Regions from separate parts of the Homo sapiens genome. Here all the other regions are reported to be linked to region 3. The links are microRNA targets in miRTarBase. Many come from high-throughput screens and were not tested one by one. Region 3 holds a microRNA gene; each other region holds the end of a gene's coding sequence.

The links. The annotated mature microRNA hsa-miR-574-5p reads UGAGUGUGUGUGUGUGAGUGUGU and lies in region 3 at 1,795-1,817, opposite strand. An mRNA with a match to its seed (bases 2 to 7 or 8) in the 3' UTR can be bound and repressed. Matches are read on the target gene's strand: a 7mer-m8 pairs with bases 2 to 8, a 7mer-A1 pairs with bases 2 to 7 and ends in A, and an 8mer does both.
Region 1: miRTarBase lists HMGN3 as a target of hsa-miR-574-5p. The part of its 3' UTR that is shown has no 7-base or 8-base seed match.
Region 2: miRTarBase lists GOLIM4 as a target of hsa-miR-574-5p. Seed matches in the 3' UTR shown: 8mer at 1,488-1,495.
Region 4: miRTarBase lists VAMP4 as a target of hsa-miR-574-5p. Seed matches in the 3' UTR shown: 7mer-A1 at 1,163-1,169.
Region 5: miRTarBase lists TTLL7 as a target of hsa-miR-574-5p. The part of its 3' UTR that is shown has no 7-base or 8-base seed match.
Region 6: miRTarBase lists MBD3 as a target of hsa-miR-574-5p. The part of its 3' UTR that is shown has no 7-base or 8-base seed match.
Region 7: miRTarBase lists PCDH11Y as a target of hsa-miR-574-5p. The part of its 3' UTR that is shown has no 7-base or 8-base seed match.

Annotation. Positions count from the first base shown.
Region 1 is chr6:79,198,908-79,202,055 of GRCh38, forward strand. HMGN3 (high mobility group nucleosomal binding domain 3) reads right to left here. Exons shown (of 7, transcript NM_001201363.2): 7 at 2,338-2,819. The coding sequence ends at 2,781. Among named protein-coding and RNA genes, the nearest start is that of HMGN3-AS1, 33 kb to the right of the region's middle.
Region 2 is chr3:168,007,453-168,010,452 of GRCh38, reverse strand. GOLIM4 (golgi integral membrane protein 4) reads left to right here. Exons shown (of 16, transcript NM_014498.5): 16 at 35-1,764. The coding sequence ends at 184. Among named protein-coding and RNA genes, the nearest start is that of GOLIM4, 87 kb to the left of the region's middle.
Region 3 is chr4:38,866,725-38,869,872 of GRCh38, reverse strand. MIR574 (microRNA 574) reads right to left here and starts at 1,841; the gene lies at 1,746-1,841. It overlaps FAM114A1 (family with sequence similarity 114 member A1), which reads right to left and starts at 2,067. Exons shown (of 15, transcript NM_138389.4): 1 at 2,039-2,067; 2 at 1,327-1,475. It also overlaps a transcript of TLR6 not described here. RefSeq lists an enhancer at 933-1,516 and silencers at 1,724-1,773, 1,824-2,303.
Region 4 is chr1:171,701,746-171,704,893 of GRCh38, forward strand. It overlaps VAMP4 (vesicle associated membrane protein 4), which reads right to left. Exons shown (of 8, transcript NM_003762.5): 8 at 1-2,789. The coding sequence ends at 2,761. Among named protein-coding and RNA genes, the nearest start is that of VAMP4, 39 kb to the right of the region's middle.
Region 5 is chr1:83,867,407-83,870,406 of GRCh38, reverse strand. TTLL7 (tubulin tyrosine ligase like 7) reads left to right here. Exons shown (of 21, transcript NM_024686.6): 21 at 325-3,000. The coding sequence ends at 445. Among named protein-coding and RNA genes, the nearest start is that of LINC01725, 7.9 kb to the right of the region's middle.
Region 6 is chr19:1,575,725-1,578,846 of GRCh38, reverse strand. MBD3 (methyl-CpG binding domain protein 3) reads left to right here. Exons shown (of 7, transcript NM_001281453.2): 6 at 309-512; 7 at 689-3,122. The coding sequence ends at 507. Among named protein-coding and RNA genes, the nearest start is that of MEX3D, 9.0 kb to the right of the region's middle.
Region 7 is chrY:5,737,521-5,740,520 of GRCh38, forward strand. It overlaps PCDH11Y (protocadherin 11 Y-linked), which reads left to right. Exons shown (of 6, transcript NM_001395587.1): 6 at 1-3,000. The coding sequence ends at 422. Among named protein-coding and RNA genes, the nearest start is that of TTTY23B, 500 kb to the right of the region's middle.

The DNA of each region.
Region 1 (3,148 bases), not on the chromosome of region 3:
GTACCATCTGACTCAAAGTGATTGTAGATTCATAGGGCTTTTATGATTCTCCAGCAAATTAGCAGACAAGTGTCTTAGAGAAGAAGAACCTTTTTCTAATTTTCTATAAATTCACCAAAGGGGTAGCAGTGGGGCAGTGCATGGAGAGTCCCACAGCTTCCATGTAGTTGAAGGTAGTGTGTCCTTATCTTTGGCAGTATATTCATCAAGTCTTCAAGTTCTGGGGGACCAATTTAGGGATCCTGGGTTATTTTGGGTAGCTGTGGTCTCTATGATACCTGCTCGGTTTTTCAATGTGGCCACGATAATATCCATATATTGTACTTAAGTAGACACCAATAGCCTACAGAACCCCTGATCTTTGTGTGTTTGATGCTATTACTGATAGCAATAATAGTAATAATTGATGCTATTAATAGTAATAGCATCAATGGTTATTATGAGCAACAATGATTTAAAACACACTGACTCCCCAACAGAAAAAGACAAAATCAGAATTCACAGAAGAAATCCAAATGACCATTAAACAGAAAAAGTTTAATTTTACTAATAATAGAATACATTTAAAATTAAAAGTGAGGCATATTTTCATTTATTAGACTGACCAAAATGAGTGCTGGCAAAGGTGGAAAGAGATGGTATTCAAATGTTGGTGATGGAAGGGGAAATTGGTACATCCTTTTTGGAGGCAGTCAAAATGTCAAATGTATATTCCCTTTGATTCAGACATTCTGCTTCTGGGAAGTTATTTAGTTGAGCAGAAGAAATACATAGGTAGAAAAACTTTGTATATAAGCATGTTTACTGCAGTATCATTGACAGCACTGTAATATTAGAAATGATCTATTTCTCCAACTACAGATTGAATAAATTCAAAATAGGATACTGATTCATTCTCTTTTAAAAATTATATATATACATATATATGTGTGTGTGTACATAACCCTAACACACACACACATACACACACATGAGAAAGAGAAAATAGAGAAAATAGTGTGCAGTGATTATCTCTGGGATGTAGGAATGGGAGGAAAAAAGATTTTGACTTTTTGCTTTATGTATTATTGTAGTATTTGGTCTTCTAAAAAAAAATCACTGGGATCACTTATATAATTTTTTAAAAAGTAAACCTAGGGAATTTATGATTCACTTCTGGAATGGAAACTAGCCAGCAATATACTTCAACTGAGTACTAACTGTATACTGAAAATATTTTTGTGAAGAGTTCATTGGATACTAGATATTTTTCTTTGCAGTAAAGCAGTTTTTAGCATGTCCAAAACTCATGAATTAAAGTATGTTTCATACTCAGAAGCCAGGTAAACTATGAACAAGATTATTCTGTATATAACATGGTTGATATATGCAGTCAACTAATGACAGACTTGGGACAATGAGGCAAGTTTAAGTTCTTAGGCCCAAAATATAATCTGGAGGAGGAACTTTGTTTTTGTTCATAAGCACAATACAAAAGCATCTAAGGCCCAAAGGAACAACAGCTTCTTTGCAGGAGTCCCTGAGCAGCACAGGCACCACCTGCCATCTTAAAAGATTCAAGTCTTCATTTAAGACAAATGCCCAGAATTCAGCTTTCCTGGAGTGCTTATGCAGTTACCAAACTTCTCAGGTTGCAAACAACAACGAAAAATTATATGTATAAAATAACTCCTCTGTTCCTGGCACTGCTATGTCCTTTCATAGACATAAAGACACTGTTTAAAATTCAAGACTCCAGCCTGGATTTTCTCCTTCCAGTAAGTCAAATACACTCCACATCCCTATTTCTTATCCTAGAAAGGAGCTCTAATAATACCCATGCCAACTCCATTCTCAAACTGATGCAAGGCTGAAACATGCTCATGTTGGGTAAAGCACTTTCAAAGCTGTGAAGTTCTCAACTGAATGCGAAGGATTTTGTACAAATGTGACTTAGTATTTATCATTTCAAAAGTGGGAGATTTTCAAAGTTGAGCCTTAGTTTATGTTTTTTTTTTTTTTTTTTTTTTTTTTTTTTTTTTACTAGCTTTGATTTAGCAGCACTATATCCTATTTATAAGGATTTTTAAAAATTAGTGCTTTATAAAGTTTTATTATACAGTAATCATTGCTGGCCACTTCTGGTATAAAGTGAATTAGATGTAATTCTTCTACATTAGCATTCATAGATGATTTTATTAAAATAGTAACAATGTTAAAGGCCAGAAAATTAAGAAACAATCTTATTTGACTTATTGGAGATACCGCTATGGCAAGGTCTATCAAAATTCTTTATATCTTCTGCAACAATAAAATGAAACACTCCCAAAATGCAGTAAAGATACTAAGAGTCAGGTATTCTGCAGACAAGTAAACCTTTTATTTTAAACCACAAATAGTCAGCAGGTGGCCACAACTATCCATGTTTCATTAAAATCACATAAAACCTAGGTACAAAAGCACCACTGATTATTGCTCTAGAAAAACTGCATGAAAAATTCAAATATGCACAGTAAAAACACCACAGTATGCACAGGACTAAATTTTAAAGCAAGTGCATGGAATGCTGAATCAATCTTACACACAGCTTCCAATATTTAACTGATATTTATTTTACTTGAGGATGATGTAAATTTCCAAAAAGCATGACTATGAGACGATAAAATGTCCATCCTTATATATTTTCGTATGCCAACTAGTAGAGTCCTAAAAAATTAGCATTTACAAAATACTTGGTAAAAATAGCTTTTAAAAGTTGTCCCAAGAGATACATAAAATCAACCCCAATTTTTCATGACAATTCATTCTCCCTCGTTATCTACAGATTCAGTTTTCTGTGCCTGTGAAAAAGAAAGGAAAAAAAAACATATAGTTACTACTGAAACTACTATAAGCAAAGGAAATTCCACCCACCAACACACACAGTTTTGAACATTTGTTTTCTTTTTTTTTTCCAGCTTTACTGCAAAACCTATTTCAACTCTGAGTGAAGAAGACAAGGCAGGAATATATTACACAAACACTTTGTTTCATTTATTGCTTTCTGCTTTTCAAACCACCACAGAAGCCTTACCTGCAAGCTCCCACTCTTCATAATGATTAAAAAAAAAAACCACCACACTACTATCTGATTCTAGTCACTGCAAACATGCAGAATTTTCTACTGTAC
Region 2 (3,000 bases), not on the chromosome of region 3:
TCTCTTAGTTTTTCTTTTTTCTTTTAATTTTAAGACTGATGATAAAAATAATGATGGAGAAGAGCAAGAAGTTCGAGATGACAACCGCCCCAAAGGCCGAGAGGAACACTACGAGGAGGAAGAAGAGGAGGAAGAAGACGGGGCTGCAGTTGCTGAGAAATCACATCGAAGAGCTGAAATGTAGCGGCACCCAATTTCTAGACAACGCTCAGCCAACGGATTCTTTTCAAGCTGCTCAAACATAAATCTGCCTACTGAACTCTAGGATATTTAATTACAAAAATTAAGAACTTAGACTTTTTTAAAACTTTTGTATTAGAAATGCGCATACATTTATATGAATATATTTTGATAACGTAGGTCTAGAGCTTCTTTTATATTCAAGCTAAACATGAAAAAGAAGAAAAACAATAAAGTAAACCTGAGCCCCCACGTCCCAATTTTTTTAATAGATTATGTGATGTTGGAAAGCTCATTGATTTTGTATATGTTTCAGCGTGTTACCTTTCTGGCTTCCAGTTCCCAGGTGTTCTTTGTTTGCCTTTGATAAAATACAGGATTTAAGAACAGAGAGTACTGCAAAATGCCATGCAGACTTTAAAGAGAATGGCCTGTTTACTAATTGCTGCCCTTCTGATGTCTTTATGTATAGCTCTGATAGAATTTTCACCAGTCTATGTATCTCTGGAGTGAGATCTATGTACAAAGTGACATACAATTGGAAATCCATTTTTGTTGTAAAGACATTGTTTTTCAGACTTTTCAGATCAATTAGAAAAATGTCATTGCTTTAAAATCATAGCTGTTCTGTTTAAGAGGAATTGAATTTAAAAATGAGAGAGTATTAAAACTCATGTGGCAGTATCCTGGTCTTAATCAGGTATTGCAGTGTTCAAACAAGGTATGGACACATCAACATATTCACCTTTTGGAAGGACTAGTGACTTGGTTAAAAACTAATGAGTGTTTGCGTGTGGTGTTTCTATGCGAGCACCCATTCTCAATTTTTTTTTTTTTTTTTTGTTTGAAGCCATTGATTGATATTCTTGTTTCAGTGTCTGGTTCCCTATAAGTAATATATATTTCCTCTTTAAGCTCTGTGCCTCAATATGCAATCACTTTGATAATAAGTATAAATATGAAGACATACCAAACTGCAAATAGGATTATTTTTCAAAACTATATGGTGAAACATATGGTGATATGATAGACTTATGGTTTTTCTGTTTGCTGGGATTGGGTCTGCTTTTTGCCTATGTGTAAGGCATTTTAATCATTGTGAATATAATAGATTCCTTAAAATAAGAAAATTAAAAATCAGAAACTTCCCTTGGAGTAGAGACATTTCAGTTGCAAGCATAAAGATTTTTAAATATATAACACTAGGTTATATAATTCATATATGTGTGGTTTTGTATTAATAATCAAATTAATAAAAACATTTCATTTTCTACCATTGTATGAACGTAATTTTATTTTTTAATAACCACACTCATAGATGGTTTTGATTGTTCCAGTTGAGTGATTGTGTATGTACGCATAGGAATGTTTTGTTCAGTTGTACTTTGTATTTCCAATAATCAGAAATCTTACCTTTATGTATAAAAACCCATTATGTAATGTAAAATGTATAATATTGTACATAATATTCAGAATACAATTATTTTGGTAAATTAGCTTGTATTTTTAATGTCCCAGTTGCAGTATTTAATTATTTGAACCATACTGAAAGTTGGTAATAGTCAATAAAGCTAAAAAAAAAAAGTGGCAAATCTTTTAAACTATGTGGTCTCTTATTAGTTTATGACCTTCTAACATTCTTCACTTCTTTTTCATAAAAAGAAAAATTTTAAGAGATACCAATATAAATTAATGAATTATAAAGTGCCTTTTCCCACCTGCTTCTGTTTTCTGTATCTTTCTCTACTTGGATTGGCATGTGATTTTCCCTTCTTTTTCTAAAGAAAGAGCTAAAGATGTTTATTTTATTTGAGCTAGCTCTGAGGGAAGAAAAAAGAAATGGGGCAGAATGTATGAGAGTGTCATGTGCATGCACACACAAAAAATAAATGAAAAACTTTAAATCCCCTTAGGAAAGCAACAATCACAAACCATTCTACTCTCTGTATAGCACCAAGTTACAGAGCCATTCTAACTAATGTGTAGAGGAGAACTAATCAGCCTGAGCTGATCTACGTTAATGAGGTGACAAGAAATAAAATGTCACCAGTATTTATTCTGCCAGTCTGTGACTTTGGTGCAACCAATAAATCAAAGGATTTGGTACCAAGAGTATAGTCGGGGTGGGGGGTGGGGGTTGTGGGAGGAAGGCACGTTTATTGGCAATGAGTATAACGGGGCACAACAAAACTAGTACACATGCAATGACTGGTTATTTGCAAGAGTGATTGGGAAGAGTTCTAGGAGTAAAAGCATAATCTTAGCCACATGTGCCAGTGACTTAATTTTACAAAGGAAAACTTGACGTGTATTGAATGCCCTCATAGTGTAAGAAGTATGTGAATAGGATCCACTTCAATCCCCACAGTATTCCTGTAAGGTTGATGGAATCCGCTTCTCACAACTGAAGAACCTTGTCTTCCAAAGCACTTAACATTTAACTTCTTTTAATGCTTAGTTTTGTTTTTAGTTCTATTACATTGTAGTACATCTATACTATGTCATCTTACACAGCCATTAAAAAGAGTGAGTTAATTCTATTTCTCAATCACCTTCTGTGGTTTCTGTTTTACTGTTTTCTCCTAGTTTTTTCCTAGCATACTGACTACATTATCTTTTTTTACAGGTTCTTCTTATGCCTGCTCTTTCAATATTAGTGTTCCTCAGGTTTTGTACTAGAGGTATTTTTTCTGTTCAATCCTCTTCCCATCTATGTGTTATACAAATGTCTTGAATCCATTTCCTTAGCCTAGCTTTCTGTGTCCCATCCTATGTAAAATATGTAAGTTTCAAAACTGAATTTACCTTGTTAAAACCTGC
Region 3 (3,148 bases):
TGTGCTTTTTCTTGGTATTAAAATGTCTTTCATTTTATGAAATAGTGACAGTGGATGGATTTTTTTAAAAAAAATGGCCTGACTTGGCAGCATAAAAATTTGGTTAGCATGATATCCTGTGTGAGGTCATCTCCCCCAGTTAAAAAAAAAAAACAAAAACAGTGCCAGTCAGCGAAGGACCAGGAATAAAAACTCTGGATGAGAGGCTCTTAATCAGGTTGTAGCAGTTTGTATGAGTTTGTATAAAGCTTGACAAGTCTACGTACCCAGGCTCCAGCCTATTCTCTGTGAGGCTGCCAGGCATTTTTGGACCTATTTGCTCTCCTGTTCAAAAACCATTAGGTGTAAATATCTTCACACTTCCCATCATAATCCAGCTCCAATCTCTCTCCACCTCTTGCAACTCTCAGTATCCTCCACTCCTGCCTCACCAGTCTTTTCTCCATTCCCCATAACTCTTCACATCTCCCTGCCTTTGCTTACGCTGGTTCCTCTGCCCCGGTGCTGCCCTTCCTCCAGCTGCCTGGCAAACTCCTATTCCTCTAGACACCCAGTGTCTAATGTTACCTTTCATTCTGAATTTTTCCTTAATCTGCCCCACTGCTTCCAATGAAATAACTGCTACCTCTTCTATGTTTTTGGCACTTTGCACAGATTTCTATTCCATGTATTTATGGAGTATTTACTTCTGCCATTCTGTCCTCCAAGACTGTGACCAACAGCACCTAGGTTGGTTTCTGTCCCTCAGATATTTACTGAATTGAAATACATTGTGTTTGATATTAATAAAAGAGAAACCATGTTTGATGTAAGCCTGGTCAAATAAACAAAGACAAGTTTACTTTTATGGTCTGAATCGCTCAGATTCAAGAAAGCCCCCTCCAACCCTCAAATTCCTTCTGCACTGTCTCACTTGTGCCTCAAATCCATCCCTAACGTCTCATTCCTTCACTTAAAGGTTACAATGTAAGAAGTTTATCAGATTCTTTCCCAAGCTCAGGCTTGATGGAAGAAAGGAGGGCGGGGACGCAGGCCTATGGGTGGGGTAGGGAAGGAGCCACTAGGCTGCAGAGAGGGCAAAAAGAGGCTCTGAGGATAGAGCCTGTCTCATTCTCAGTTGTCACAGGTTGGCTGAGGTCACAGGGAGTTCAGAGCACACTGATTTAAGAAGCCACCTGCCTGTGTCCTTCAAGATGTTTAGGATGGGAAATGATGGGATCAGTAGGGCATAGGTAATGCTCTCACAGCCCATAGAGAGATGTCTTCCTACTTAAGAAAAGGCAGTGACGTTCAGGCGCCTGGTCTGAGGTGCCTGGAAATACTCACCGGATGGCAGAGGCGAGGGCTAGCCGACTGGGTGGAGGGGGCCTGGGGATCTGCGGTAGGGAGTGGGACCCATCCCGGGGGCTGCGAGTGGAGGCGGTGCCTGCTTAGAGTGTTGGCTGGACTGGAAGAGCAGGCAGGGCGTGGGTCGGCTGTTGGGGGAGGAGTAAGGCGAGGGGAGCGGGGAGGTCAAGGCCTGAGCTCCCTGTGCCAAGGCCGAGGGCAGGCGCACCCTGGGACGAGGCCTCTGTCTTACAGGGACCTGCTCCCTTCGTGCCCGGGCTGGGGGACCCTGCAGCCCACCTCTGACTTGGCCCCGAGCCATTGGGGGCACTTTTCCAGACTTGCTTGGTGCCAGGACTGGATACTTTGGGAGATCCAGGCAGGCTCCGCGGAGGTTCACGCAGGCCGAGGGGGCAGACCCTGAGTGTGGGCGTGTGGGTGTGTGCATGAGCGTGGACCCGGAGCGACACACACTCACACACACACACTCACACGCCCGCACCCACGCAGGTCCCTCGGCCGCGCCGCCCCAGACCCTCACCCCAGAGCCGGGTCCTCCCTGACCACTGCTTCTCACTAACGCAGAGGGCAGGATTCGTGGGTCCCGGACGAGGCGCCAAGGTATGGTGTTCCCACCACCCCCGGGCAGCCGCCCCCGCGCTCGCCCGCCCCCCGGGGAAGGGGATGGGGACCGAGTGCCCGGGGCTCTTACCGCTCAGGCGGCCGAGTACGCGCGGGAGTGCCCAGCGGGTCCCGCCCCGCCACGTCTGCAGGGCCGGCGGGGACGCGGCCGGAGGGCGGGCGGCTGGAGAGGGGGCCCCGCCCCGCCTGCGCCCCGCCCCACGAGGAGCGCCGCGGGGACGCCCGGCCACCCCCACGCTGCGAGGGCCGGGCCCGCGCTGGGCGAGTCTCCTGGAAACTTGGCTTGTCCCACCCCTGTGCCAGCGCGGAAAGCCAGAGCGCGCCGCCTCTCCAGCCCAGGGCGGGTGGGTCTCGGGGTTCGCCAGATCCCTTTCCTTTCCTTAAAAGGGCTTGGAAAACCCCCCGCCGTGTCACTGGGAAGAGGTCGCTCAAATTCAGCTAAAGTTTGATCTCCTGATTCTGCGTTAAGCAGCACTCCCTTGCCCTGTCGGTGGGAGTGTGATAGATTTAAAACAAACAAACCCCAAACAAACAACGAAAACCCACTTTCCAGAAGGCCAGTTTGGAGCTGTGGGTTAAAACTCCGATGTATTAGCTTTGGCCTAGGAATTCCACATTTGTGAATTTGTCCTAAGTAGGCAGTCAAATGGGCAAATATGTATGTACAAGGATGTTTGTTGTAGTTGTTTCTGCGGGGGGAAGCCGGAGACAATCTCAATGTCCCCCAGTAAGATTGGTGAAGTAAGCTACAGTAACTTCAGACATCGAATATGTTGTAGCCCTTAAAAATGAGGATTCGTTGACATGGAGGGAAGGCCACATATGAAGGCCTTCCTCAAATATGGCTTAATATGAACTCAGATGCGGAGGAAGCGCAGTGTTTATAGTATTAACTAGTTTTGTAAACAATTTTGTATTTTCTATAAAAGTCGGAGGAAATACAATTTAAAAATAGTGATTCTTTCTGAGCGATGTGTTTAAGGCAGATTTTCTCCTCTCTCACTCCATCCCTTCTTCTTTTTGAAGAATTATAAATTCAAAGTTAAAGAAAAAATAGCCCTAGTCTCTCCCTTTCAATATCACTACCATTTTTTATAGTGTGTGGATCCTACCATAGTTTTTCTAAGCTTATATAAATACATGTATGCATAAACAGCTTTTTGTTTGCTTTTTTATAAAA
Region 4 (3,148 bases), not on the chromosome of region 3:
AGAAATCCCCCAGTTTATAAAATCTGAGGGCAATTTCCAGTGAACTTTGTCAGGATAGAGGAACCAAATGACCACAGGTATTACTGAGTTATAATAAGAAGGAGTAACCAATTAATCAGTATTATAACAACAAAATTGCTGCAAGGCAATAGGCTTCTGTAATTAAACATAAATCACAAAGGTATGGATTCAGGCATCAAAATAGTGACGTGATTTCACTGAGTATCAACTAGTATTTGCAAAGCTACTTGAATTTTTCTGTTGATCTTCACTTGTTGTTAAATAATGATAGTTTTGATGGTGGTAAAACTTCATTTTTCAAGTGCAGGATGATCTGAGCTGAATGAGAAAAAAAGTAATTAAGGGAGGGAATAAAGGTAGGCCTGGCATCAGTTTGAACAATATATTTTTTTCTTCTGTTTTTGATCGTAAGAGGGCTTATATCTCCAAGGTTACCACAATAAAGTCATAACCATGCCAGCCATTTTAAGGATTTCAGGATTAATCAAGACCAAGAAAGATGAAATGATGAATTACAAACCAAGCCATCACTACTACAAAGTTCCATGAGTGATAATTCTGTTACCCATATCCCAGGCAGCAATATGTTTAAATTACAAAGACAGTGACATATATATTGTCAAAAAATTTTACTGTTACTTATTATTTAAATTTAAAAATTTTATAATTTTACATTTTGTAATTATTTATTTAAAAGTGGCATATTTTATTAAAAGGAACACTGGAAATATGGATACTTTTTGAGAAGTAATCTTCATCTTCACTTGTAGATATTATGGAGAAACCAGATTTCTACATCAACTAATGGAAAATTAACCACTTATGAGCCTAGTTCCAATTCAAATAAAGGACATACATACAAATGTTAGGACTGATTCTGTCCATTCAGTTAAAATATTTCCATTCCTGAATTATTAGCTACTGAAATTCTAAAAATGCTCATTTTTCTGGGTATCTTAACTTAAAAGATTTATTAGCTGTTCAGATGCTGTTTATATTAATTGACATTTACAAAGAGCATAGAGACCAAAGACAATATACACTATAGTATGTAAGACCTTTATCTCCTTCTAAATGCTCTAAGCAAACTATAAAATTTAGTAATTCTATTTAGATCTTCTTAGATAACTTGCAGGTGTCTTGAGTGTCTCAGTCTGCTTTCTCTCTTCAAATTTTTTCCATTCTAAACAGCATTTTTTGCCTCCTAGTAATAATCCTGTAGAATTTTAAAAACAGACAAAAAAACACCAAACCCAGATTCTATGCTTTATTCATTTTGCATTAAGATGACCAAAGAAATAAAACCTAAATAAAATAAACATAAAATCATTTTTCCCTATTTAAATACTGATAATTTCTATTAACCCTATTTTTAATTTAGGGAGTTTTATATTCATATTGTCAAGATATCCAGTGCACAAGTTTCTGCAGAATCACTAATTTTATTATAAAGCTTCCTCTCCCCACACCTTAGGGGACAATGTATTTTCACTCTGACTTGTTTAAAAGACACAAGGAGGTTGGCATATTTTAAAGTTAACACATTTTTTCATTATAAAAACAGGCTTAGGTTAATGGTCACTCTCTAGCATTTGGTTACCGACTGACTGATTATCATATGTGTGCGTGTGTGTGTGTGTGTGTGTGTGTGTTTGTGTGTATATATATATATATATATATATATATATATATATATATATATACACATAGGTTCCTGACTTTCTACTACTCATTACTGTTGGCTGATGCAAAATTTGATTGTGCAACATACATCTCCTCAAGGATGAACAGGAAATGCAAAGATATAAAATTCAAAGTATTAATAGATGGTTTTGCTACTTTTTGTACTTTTGGTAAATGAGATAGTTGGAAGTTAGAGGCTATTAACTAAAATAAAATTAAGGAGTAAGTAAGTTACCTGTAAATTTCATTTACTCACATTAGGACTGACTGGTCTCTCTTTATTGGAGTTTAACAGAAAACAGACTGGACCATGACTGGCAGCTATATATTGGTCATTTTCAAATACTCCAATGACACTCTTCAATAACTTTATTATCTCCAGTTTTATGATGCCATACCATGTTTTTTCACACTGTTTAAAAATTTCCATTTCCATAATCCAATGCCAAAAAAATTACTACACATTCTCTTACACAGTCAAAAATATATTTACTGGAATGTTTTTAGTTATACCTGAGGGCAACAACATTTACAACATTTAGCTTTTGTTACACCTATAAATGTGGAAATTGCTTGCAAAACAACTGTAATATGAAAGGAACTATATTTCTGCAAATATTGACAGAATGGTTATGCATCTCTTTCAGCATATAATTTGGTACTCTACACAGGCTTCCTGACCCCCAGCATGACCCGCTCCCTAATGCAATAATGCAAGTCCTTATGCCATTAAAATATTAATATGAAATATTATAATCAGTGTTTATATACACAAATAATGAACTGGCAAGTATCTAGTTTCAAATTAGATCCTTGAAATATGGAAAAATAGAGGCTAGTTCTCTTTGCCTTAAACATAATTATTAAAAGAACATTTTGTTAGAAAGGGAGAAGATAATTGGACATTCTCAACGTTCCAATTTGAAGTGATACTTGCCTCTTAGTTTCTTGAAAAAGAAGTTTTGAAAGTTATATACACATAGGTTTCATTTAAATTATGCAGCAATCTTTTATTACTGTCCCAGATCTTGTTTAATGAAGATCTCTGTCATCAAATCAAGTACGGTATTTCATGACTATAAGAACTGTAAGAGAAAACATGAAAAAAGCAATATATCAACATCAGATATATATGCTATGTTTGAAGCAATATTCCTAAATGTAGTTGTGTCTACTTTTAGAAATGGGTAATGAGGATTGACTGAACTTTTATCTGAGGTAATAAATAATCAATGGGAAAGGAGAAGCAAAAAATATCATAAAACAACCTAAATGTCTAACATTGGCATCTTAAATAAATAATGGCATAGCCATAGCTTGTATCTGCTGTTAAAATATTACTAAAAATTTTGATAACCTGGGATAATAGTCACAATATATTTATTAGAAAGTACATATAATATAGTCTTAGTTTTTTAAAAAACATGCTTGTATATTAATAGGA
Region 5 (3,000 bases), not on the chromosome of region 3:
GAAATATTTGACTGGCTCCACATATTACTTACAAGGACTGATAATGAATTCTAAATTAACATTAGCCACATAAACAGTTTCACAGTATTTGAGTACAGTGGCTCTTTATGGGATGTCTTGGGATGCTAACATCATATATTGCATCTATATTTAGCTCTTCTCTCCTTTCCTACAGTCTGGAGGAGGAAATCTTTTTATATGAATTGCATTTTTGTTACAGTAACATTTCTCATATAGACTACGTAAATTGCTAACCACATAACCCTTTAGTGAGTTAGTTATAATTTGCTTGTAAAAATCTAATTTGTTAACCATCATTTTTAGGTATTTACTACCAGGGAGCACCCAATTCTTCTTGAGAACACCAACCTACAACTTGAAGTACAATTCACCTGGAATGACTCGCTCCAATGTTTTGTTTACATCCAGATATGGCCATCTGTGAAACAGAAGGGAAGATCGCCATTGGTTATACATAACAGCAATTCATTTTTTTCCTCTGAAGTTGAACATGCAAAGAACATGACCATTAAGTGCTGTTTTATGTATATAAGACATATATATGTGTGAAAATATATGCACATATGCACCCTAATAACATATATTTATTATATTAAATGATATATGAAAGAAGAATTAGCAGAAAATGGAATATAAGACTTAACCTTTCTGGAAACGTAATAAACCATGTTAAAATTGTTTACACAAATATGTGAATGTCTAGAATCTGCTAGGTTTATAATTAATTCCTTCCTACTAGAAATGTTATTTTTGCTGCAGAGTATATAAAACAAATTGATCTTGAAGATCCAATTACAGTGTTAAATTATTTTCTAGATAACATGCCTTTTGACCTGAAAAAGGGTTTAGTATAATACCTTAAAAATTCTCATATATAGTAGCCATTTTAAATGAAACAAAAAGATTTAGAAGCCTGGTGTTGCTTGATGATAAGATTAAGAAGTTTAAAACGGGTTTATCATTACTATAGCACACTGTAAAGTGCTAGAAAAGTCATAACCTGATTCTCCAATCTTTTTATTCCTCTATGTGGAAATTTAGCTACTTGTAATAAGGTACATTTTCAGTAAGGATCTGGTGAGATCATATTATGATCTAACATGAAAGACAGGCTGGGCGCGGTGGCTCACGCCTGTAATTCCAGCACTTTGGGAGGCCGAGGTGAGTGGATCACCGCTGGTCAGGAGTTTGAGACTAGCCTGGCCAACATGGTGAAACCCCATCTCTACTAAAAATACAAAAATTAGCTGGGCGTGATGGTAAGTGCTTGTAATCCCAGCTACTTGGGCGGCTGAGACAGGAGAATCACTTGAACCTGGGAGGCGGAGGTTGCAGTGAGCCGAGATTGTGCCATTGCATTCTAGCCTGGGTGACAAGAGTGAAACTCTGTCTCAAAAAAAAAAAATAATAATAAAATAAAATAAATAAATAAATAAAAAGAAGATAAAAATAAATAAATAAAATGGAAGACAATCCAATGGGTTAAAAATAAAATGTAAACTAGCTTTCATTTTTACTTTTCATAATCACATAAAGGAACAGAAAATGATGGTAACAAAATCTTTCTATATGGCTTTTATGTCTTATACCACTCATTTTTATTTGGAAAGTATATCTTTGATGGGTTTAACATGTGGTTAAATACAATTTCTCCTGTTTCGCAGAAGTAGAAGAGTTGACACATTTCACTCATTTTAGTGTTACAGGATAATGAGACAAACTTATTTTTATAAATCTCTCAAGGTTGAAATCAACTTATATTGCAAATTCTAATACAGTAGTTTCTCATTGCACCACAGAAACAGTTAAAGGATTGTGAATAGAAGATTTCAATTATCACATATTACAAGTCATCAGTGTACCCTTGAGGGTTTTTAAAAAATCAAAACAGAGAACGAAGTGTTCTTGTCCAAAGTTGTTATGCATAAGTTTCATAGCAGTTTACTTCCTTTTCTTGAATACAGTTTTTAAAACCAAGAGTGAGCTTTCAGTTTTCCATAAAAATATAAGCCGTACTACTTTGACATTGAAATCATCAGTGCAGCCATCACTTCTTAGAATTTATTTAAACTTCTTCTCCCAACAGTTTTATTTTCTTTTAGCTGCTAATTATTTTCGAAATTCATGAATGTTTTACCTCCTTTTACTATTCTGAAAGTTATTTCAAGAAGTGGCCCCAAAGCAGGAGAACTGAGAGGGGCAAATTGGCCTGGTTTAATTCACAGCCTGAAGAATTGGCAACCTAAAGTTATAAGTTAGATGTATTTTGCTTTTCAAGCCATCTTCTGAGCCTTTTTTAGGCTGAAATGATTTGTTTATTTCCCAAATTATTGCTAGCTACTTGATTTTTTATGGCTACCTAACATCCACATTTGGTAGATACTTTTCCTCTCTGCATGCATCCCAAAGAAGAATTTGCTATTTGTGGAAGAAGAGAATAAGGGTATCAGAATGAAGGAAATTACAGTGACTACACTGTTTATGACTCCATTTTGTGAATTCTTAAATATGCTATGGATTTTTTTTTAGAAAAAATAATGCAAAAATTGGGATATTACAGAATCACCATAAAGATGATCAACAAGTAATAAGTCTTTTCATGGAGTTCATTTTTCTTTTAAATTCATGATTTGGCCACAAAAATATATATATAAGTGTCTGATATATGATAACAGCCCAGTTTCTCGGCCACTCATTTGCATTATCTTAAATCACAAATAATTACTTAATTTGCTGGAGTGTGTGCTTTGCAACTTTTGTACCAGAGCAAAATTTGTATTTAAAACAAAAAATAAGAATGCCCATCACTAGGAGAAACACTCCTCACAGAAAACACACACACACACACACACACAATTTAAAAACTGAGTAAATTTAAATGTATGAAAGTACCCCACAAATTGATTTCAACAAATAAATTTCATTTCTCTAGCTACTTATGTCTGGCCTTATTTTGAGCGTTACAATTTTATTGCCTTC
Region 6 (3,122 bases), not on the chromosome of region 3:
CACAGCTGAGCCCCGGGGAGGCTCAGGGCCAAGTCTGGGGACTGAAGGGTCAGGCCCCTCCCTTGGTCCCAGTAGAGGTGGCAGGGGGGCCATCTGGGAGGGTGGCGGACGCTGGCGATGGCCAGCGGCAGCCGGTCATTCTCTGCGTGGATTGTGAAGGGAGGGGTGGCACGGGCCAGGGCTGGTCCTGGGGGGGTGCCTGTGGATCCCTCGGGCCTCCCCTCCCAGCTGAGGTCCCCACGTTCATCCTGTGTCCATGTCCTGCTGGCCGCTCACCTTGGTGTAACGCAAGGTCCATGTGTCCCCAGGAAGCAGGAAGAGCTGGTGCAGCAGGTGCGGAAGCGGCTGGAGGAGGCGCTGATGGCCGACATGCTGGCGCACGTGGAGGAGCTGGCCCGTGACGGGGAGGCGCCGCTGGACAAGGCCTGCGCTGAGGACGACGACGAGGAAGACGAGGAGGAGGAGGAGGAGGAGCCCGACCCGGACCCGGAGATGGAGCACGTCTAGGGCAGGTGCTGCGGGGCCACGGGGGCTCCCTGGAGTCGGGTCCTGGCAGTGGGGACTGCCTGGTGAACACAGATGTGCTTGGGATGACGGGTGCCTCCCAAGAGCTTCCCATCTCCCTAGAAGAGCCCAAGCGTCCCCGTCCCGTGGAGTCGCTAAAGCCAGCCCTCCCTGTCCTTTCCAGAGGCCCTGCCGAGAGCCCGTGCTGCCTGCTGGAGCCGCCTGCAGACGCGGTCCTCGGCCCCACGTGAACCAGGCTCGGCGGCGAAGCCCAGCCTTGGAGACACCCAGGAGGAAGGCCGTGCTCCTGGCTCCCTCCTCGGCCCGTCCCCACTTCCCGGGGCCTCGGGGCACACAGCTGGGGCTGCCCCCACCCGAAAGACCCTCCACGCTCGTCCTCTACAGAGTCCGGCTTCGGGAAGTGCCGGGTGCTCCTGGGCCCTGCCTGGCTCCCTACGACCTTTGGGCTCGAGGCCAGCTCCTCCCCATGCCCGCTGTCCCAGCTCCTTGAGACTGGAGAGCAGCCAGCAGGTGCCCGGCAGCTCGGCGCCACGGCTTGCTGACAGCTGGGAGGGTTTCTCGGTCTGGAGGCGTAGTTTTGAAACTCACATCACCCACTGTGCAGCGTGAGGACGGGACTCTGGTCTGCTGTGGGGGGCATGCAGGACGGCGCCACTCTCTGCCCTGCCATGCGGCTGGTGGTGCCACAGAGCCTCACCGTGCCTGAGTGGCATGCCCAGGAGGCCGCTCTCCTTCAGTAAATGTAACACAGTCGAGGCACGTCATCGGGCAGCCTTCCCTGTGTGCCAACGCCAGCCTTCGCTTCTGAAAACCAAACTCCAGCCGCTGCCAGTCGGGACTTGGTCGCCCGGCGCTGCCAGAATGCTCCACTGCCAGCCGGCCCCCCTGCCTCGGTTTCCCTTCTGTTTAGTGGCGACACAGGCACCCAGCTTTGGGGTGGTGCTGACGCTCCCAGGGGTGCCAGGAGCCACTGGGACAGGGTGAGGCTCCCAGACGCTCCTCGAGGTGCCCAGCTCTCCAGGGAGCTTCTGGCCCAAGGCCGTCTGAGGGATCTGCTCCTTAACCCCCCAGTGCCTTGGCGAGGGCAGGTTCCAAGCCACAGACGCCTGCCCCGAGTGGACTCTGCGGCCAGTCCCTGGTGCCCTCCTGGCCCTGCTGCCCAGTGAGGGCTCCTACGGGTGGGTTCATTGGCCTGGGCCCAGCGAGCCCCCACCTGCATTGACCTTAGGCCCATAGAGAGGGCCTGTCCCGGTGCTGCCCCAGCCAGGATCTGGTCGCTGCCCCAGGGGGACTGATGGGCAGAGTCGCCCCTGTGGCTGGACTGTGACCATCCCTGATGGGGCCTGACCGCGGGAGCTGAGGAAGCGCCGCTCCACCGTCTGCCCTCCAAGGACCCGCATGGAGGCAGTGGGCTGGCAGCTTCCTGCTGCTCCCTGTCAGAGTCAAAGCACAAATCCTCAGGACGGGCTCAAGGGCCAGGGCAGCCGAGGGAAGCTCCAGGTGGGGACCACGTCTTCCTGAGGTTGGTGCCCACTGGCTGGGACCCTTTGCAGTGGGGTGGCCTCCCCTCTGTCTGCCTGGTGGAGGGAGCCGTGGGCGTGGGGACGTGACTGAATAAAGCCACCATGGGTGGATGTGCTTGGAGCCTGGAGTTCGGTGCGTCCGCTAGACTTTGGTGCCCACGTTTGAGCTTCTGTCTTTGGTTGGGTGATGAAAGGCTGAAAGCGGTGTGGGGACAGGGCCAGCAGGTCCCCCAACCTCGCGGACATTCACAACCCAAGAGTCAGGCTTAGGGGTATTCAGAGAAGACCAGGCCGGCCTGGGCATCTGTGGGCAAGGGCCGTGCCCCCTGAGGTGCCGCTGGCTCAGCCTAGGGATCGTGGGTCTTGGCCCTGCTGCCCCGGTGAGGAAGATGGGCTGGGGCTCAGACCCAGCACCGCTCCTTCCAAAGGAAGGGAAGCAGGAGGGGCTGCCTGGCAGGGAGGGCCCCCCAGGTCCTCAGGTCCTGCACAGCCGCTGCAGGGAGGGGAGCTGTGCCCCGGGACCCTGGACTTCAGCTCACTAGCCATGGCCACTGGAAGCTGCTTTCTGGACCTGAAGGCTGGGAGGCCACCCTCCCCTCATCTGCCCGGCACTCAGAGACACTCTGTTTCCCTCTTCCCATCTCCCACTGTGTCCCTGTCTCCCTTGGTCTCTCTCTGTCTCTGTCTATCCCTGTCTCTATCTCTCCCTCTTGTCTCTCTCTTGCGCCGTCTCCCTCTCTGTCCCTCTTTGTTTCTTGCTCTCTCTCCTGTCTCTCTCCCTCGGTCTCTGTCTCTGTCTCTTGCTGTCTCTCCCTCTCTGTCGCAGCCCAGCTTCCTGTCACTGACAGACCCCGATCAGTCCCTCTGATCCCGGGGTTCTGGCCATGTCCTGGCCTTGGTCTGAGATGTGATGATCCCTACCCCTGCCACAGGGCCCTCCCCACTGGAAGCCCATCCAGGCCCTGGGCTGTCGCTGTTGACGAAGCTTGAGGGTCCTTTCCTCTCTCCCTGAAACCTTGGGGACCCCCACAGGCCAAGGCAATACTGGCCTTTGCTAGAGGTCGTGCCCGGTGA
Region 7 (3,000 bases), not on the chromosome of region 3:
GCCACAGCCCACCACCGATACAGGTGTCTGCTCTCCACCACAGTCCTCCTCTAGTGCAGGGTACTGCACTTCACCACAGCCCACCATCAGCACAGGCCTCAGCCCTCTGCTACAGCCCTCCTTTAGCACAGGCTGCTGCAATCAGCCACAGCTCTTCTCTGCCACAGGTTATTGCCCTCCATCGTAGTCAGGCCCAATCATCAGTCAGTTTGCAGCAAGGTTGGGTGCAAGGTGCTAATGGACTATGCTCTGTTGATCAGGGAGTGCAAGGTAGTGCAACATCTCAGTTTTACACCATGTCTGAAAGACTTCATCCCAGTGATGATTCAATTAAAGTCATTCCTTTGACAACCTTCGCTCCACGCCAACAGGCCAGACCGTCCAGAGGTGATTCCCCCATTATGGAAACACATCCCTTGTAAAGCTAAAATAGTTACTTCAAATTTTCAGAAAAGATGTATATAGTCAAAATTTAAGATACAATTCCAATGAGTATTCTGATTATCAGATTTGTAAATAACTATGTAAATAGAAACAGATACCAGAATAAATCTACAGCTAGACCCTTAGTCAATAGTTAACCAAAAAATTGCAATTTGTTTAATTCAGAATGTGTATTTAAAAAGAAAAGGAATTTAACAATTTGCATCCCCTTGTACAGTAAGGCTTATCATGACAGAGCGTACTATTTCTGATGTACAGTATTTTTTGTTGTTTTTATCATCATGTGCAATATTACTGATTTGTTTCCATGCTGATTGTGTGGAACCAGTATGTAGCAAATGGAAAGCCTAGAAATATCTTATTTTCTAAGTTTACCTTTAGTTTACCTAAACTTTTGTTCAGATAATGTTAAAAGGTATACGTACTCTAGCCTTTTTTGGGGCTTTCTTTTTGATTTTTGTTTGTGGTTTTCAGTTTTTTTGTTGTTGTTAGTGAGTCTCCCTTCAAAATACACAGTAGGTAGTGTAAATACTGCTTGTTTGTGTCTCTCTGCTGTCATGTTTTCTACCTTATTCCAATACTATATTGTTGATAAAATTTGTATATACATTTTCAATAAAGAATATGTATAAACTGTACAGATCTAGATCTACAACCTATTTCTCTACTCTTTAGTAGAGTTCGAGACACAGAAGTGCAATAACTGCCCTAATTAAGCAACTATTTGTTAAAAAGGGCCCCTTTTTACTTTAATAGTTTAGTGTAAAGTACATCAGAAATAAAACTGTATCTGACATTTTAAGCCTGTAGTCCATTATTACTTGGGTCTTTACTTCTGGGAATTTGTATGTAACAGCCTAGAAAATTAAAAGGAGGTGGATGCATCCAAAGCACGAGTCACTTAAAATATCGACGGTAAACTACTATTTTGTAGAGAAACTCAGGAAGATTTAAATGTTGATTTGACAGCTCAATAGGCTGTTACCAAAGGGTGTTCAGTAAAAATAACAAATACATGTAACTGTAGATAAAACCACATACTAAATCTATAAGACTAAGGGATTTTTGTTATTCTAGCTCAACTTACTGAAGAAAACCACTAATAACAACAAGAATATCAGGAAGGAACTTTTCAAGAAATGTAATTATAAATCTACATCAAACAGAATTTTAAGGAAAAATGCAGAGGGAGAAATAAGGCACATGACTGCTTCTTGCAGTCAAGAAGAAATACCAATAACACACACAGAACAAAAACCATCAAAATCTCATATATGAAATAAAATATATTCTTCTAAGCAAAGAAACAGTACTATTCATAGAAAACATTAGTTTTCTCCTGTTGTCTGTTATTTCCTTCTTTTATCCTCTTAACTGGCCATTATCTTGTATGTGCACATTTTATAAATGTACAGAAACATCACCAACTTGATTTTCTTCCATAGCAAAACTGAGAAAATACCTTGTTTCAGTATAACACTAAACCAAGAGACAATTGATGTTTAATGGGGGCGGTTGGGGTTGGGGGGGAGTCAATATCTCCTATTGATTAACTTAGACATAGATTTTGTAATGTATAACTTGATATTTAATTTATGATTAAACTGTAATTTTGTAACATAAACTGTGGTAATTGCATAATTTCATTGGTGAGGATTTCCTTTGAATATTGAGAAAGTTTCTTTTCATGTGCCCAGCAGGTTAAGTAGCGTTTTCAGAATATACATTATTCCCATCCATTGTAAAGTTCCTTAAGTCATATTTGACTGGGCGTGCAGAATAACTTCTTAACTATTAACTATCAGAGTTTGATTAATAAAATTAATTAATTTTTTTTCTCCTTCGTGTTGTTAATGTTCCAAGGGATTTGGAGCATACTGGTTTTCCAGGTGCATGTGAATCCCGAAGGACTGATGATATTTGAATGTTTATTAAATTATTATCACACAAATGTGTTGATATTGTGGCTATTGTTGATGTTGAAAATTGTAAACTTGGGGAAGATTAAGAAAAGAACCAATAGTGACAAAAATCAGTGCTTCCAGTAGATTTTAGAACATTCTTTGCCTCAAAAAACCTGCAAAGATGATGTGAGATTTTTTCTTGTGTTTTAATTATTTTCACATTTTCTCTCTGCAAACCTTTAGTTTTCTGATGATCTACACACACACATACACACACACACACACACACGTGCACACACACACATTTAAAGGATATAAAAAGAAGAGGTTGAAAGATTATTAAATAACTTATCAGGCATCTCAATGGTTACTATCTATGTTAGTGAAAATCAAATAGGACTCAAAGTTGGATATTTGGGATTTTTCTTCTGACAGTATAATTTATTGAGTTACTAGGGAGGTTCTTAAATCCTCATATCTGGAAACTTGTGAAGTTTTGACACCTTTCCTATAGATATAGGAATGAACCAATACGCTTTTATTACCCTTTCTAACTCTGATTTTATAATCAGACTTAGATTGTGTTTAGAATATTAAATGACTGGGCACCCTCTTCTTGGTTTTTACCAGAGAGGCTTTGAATGGAAGCAGG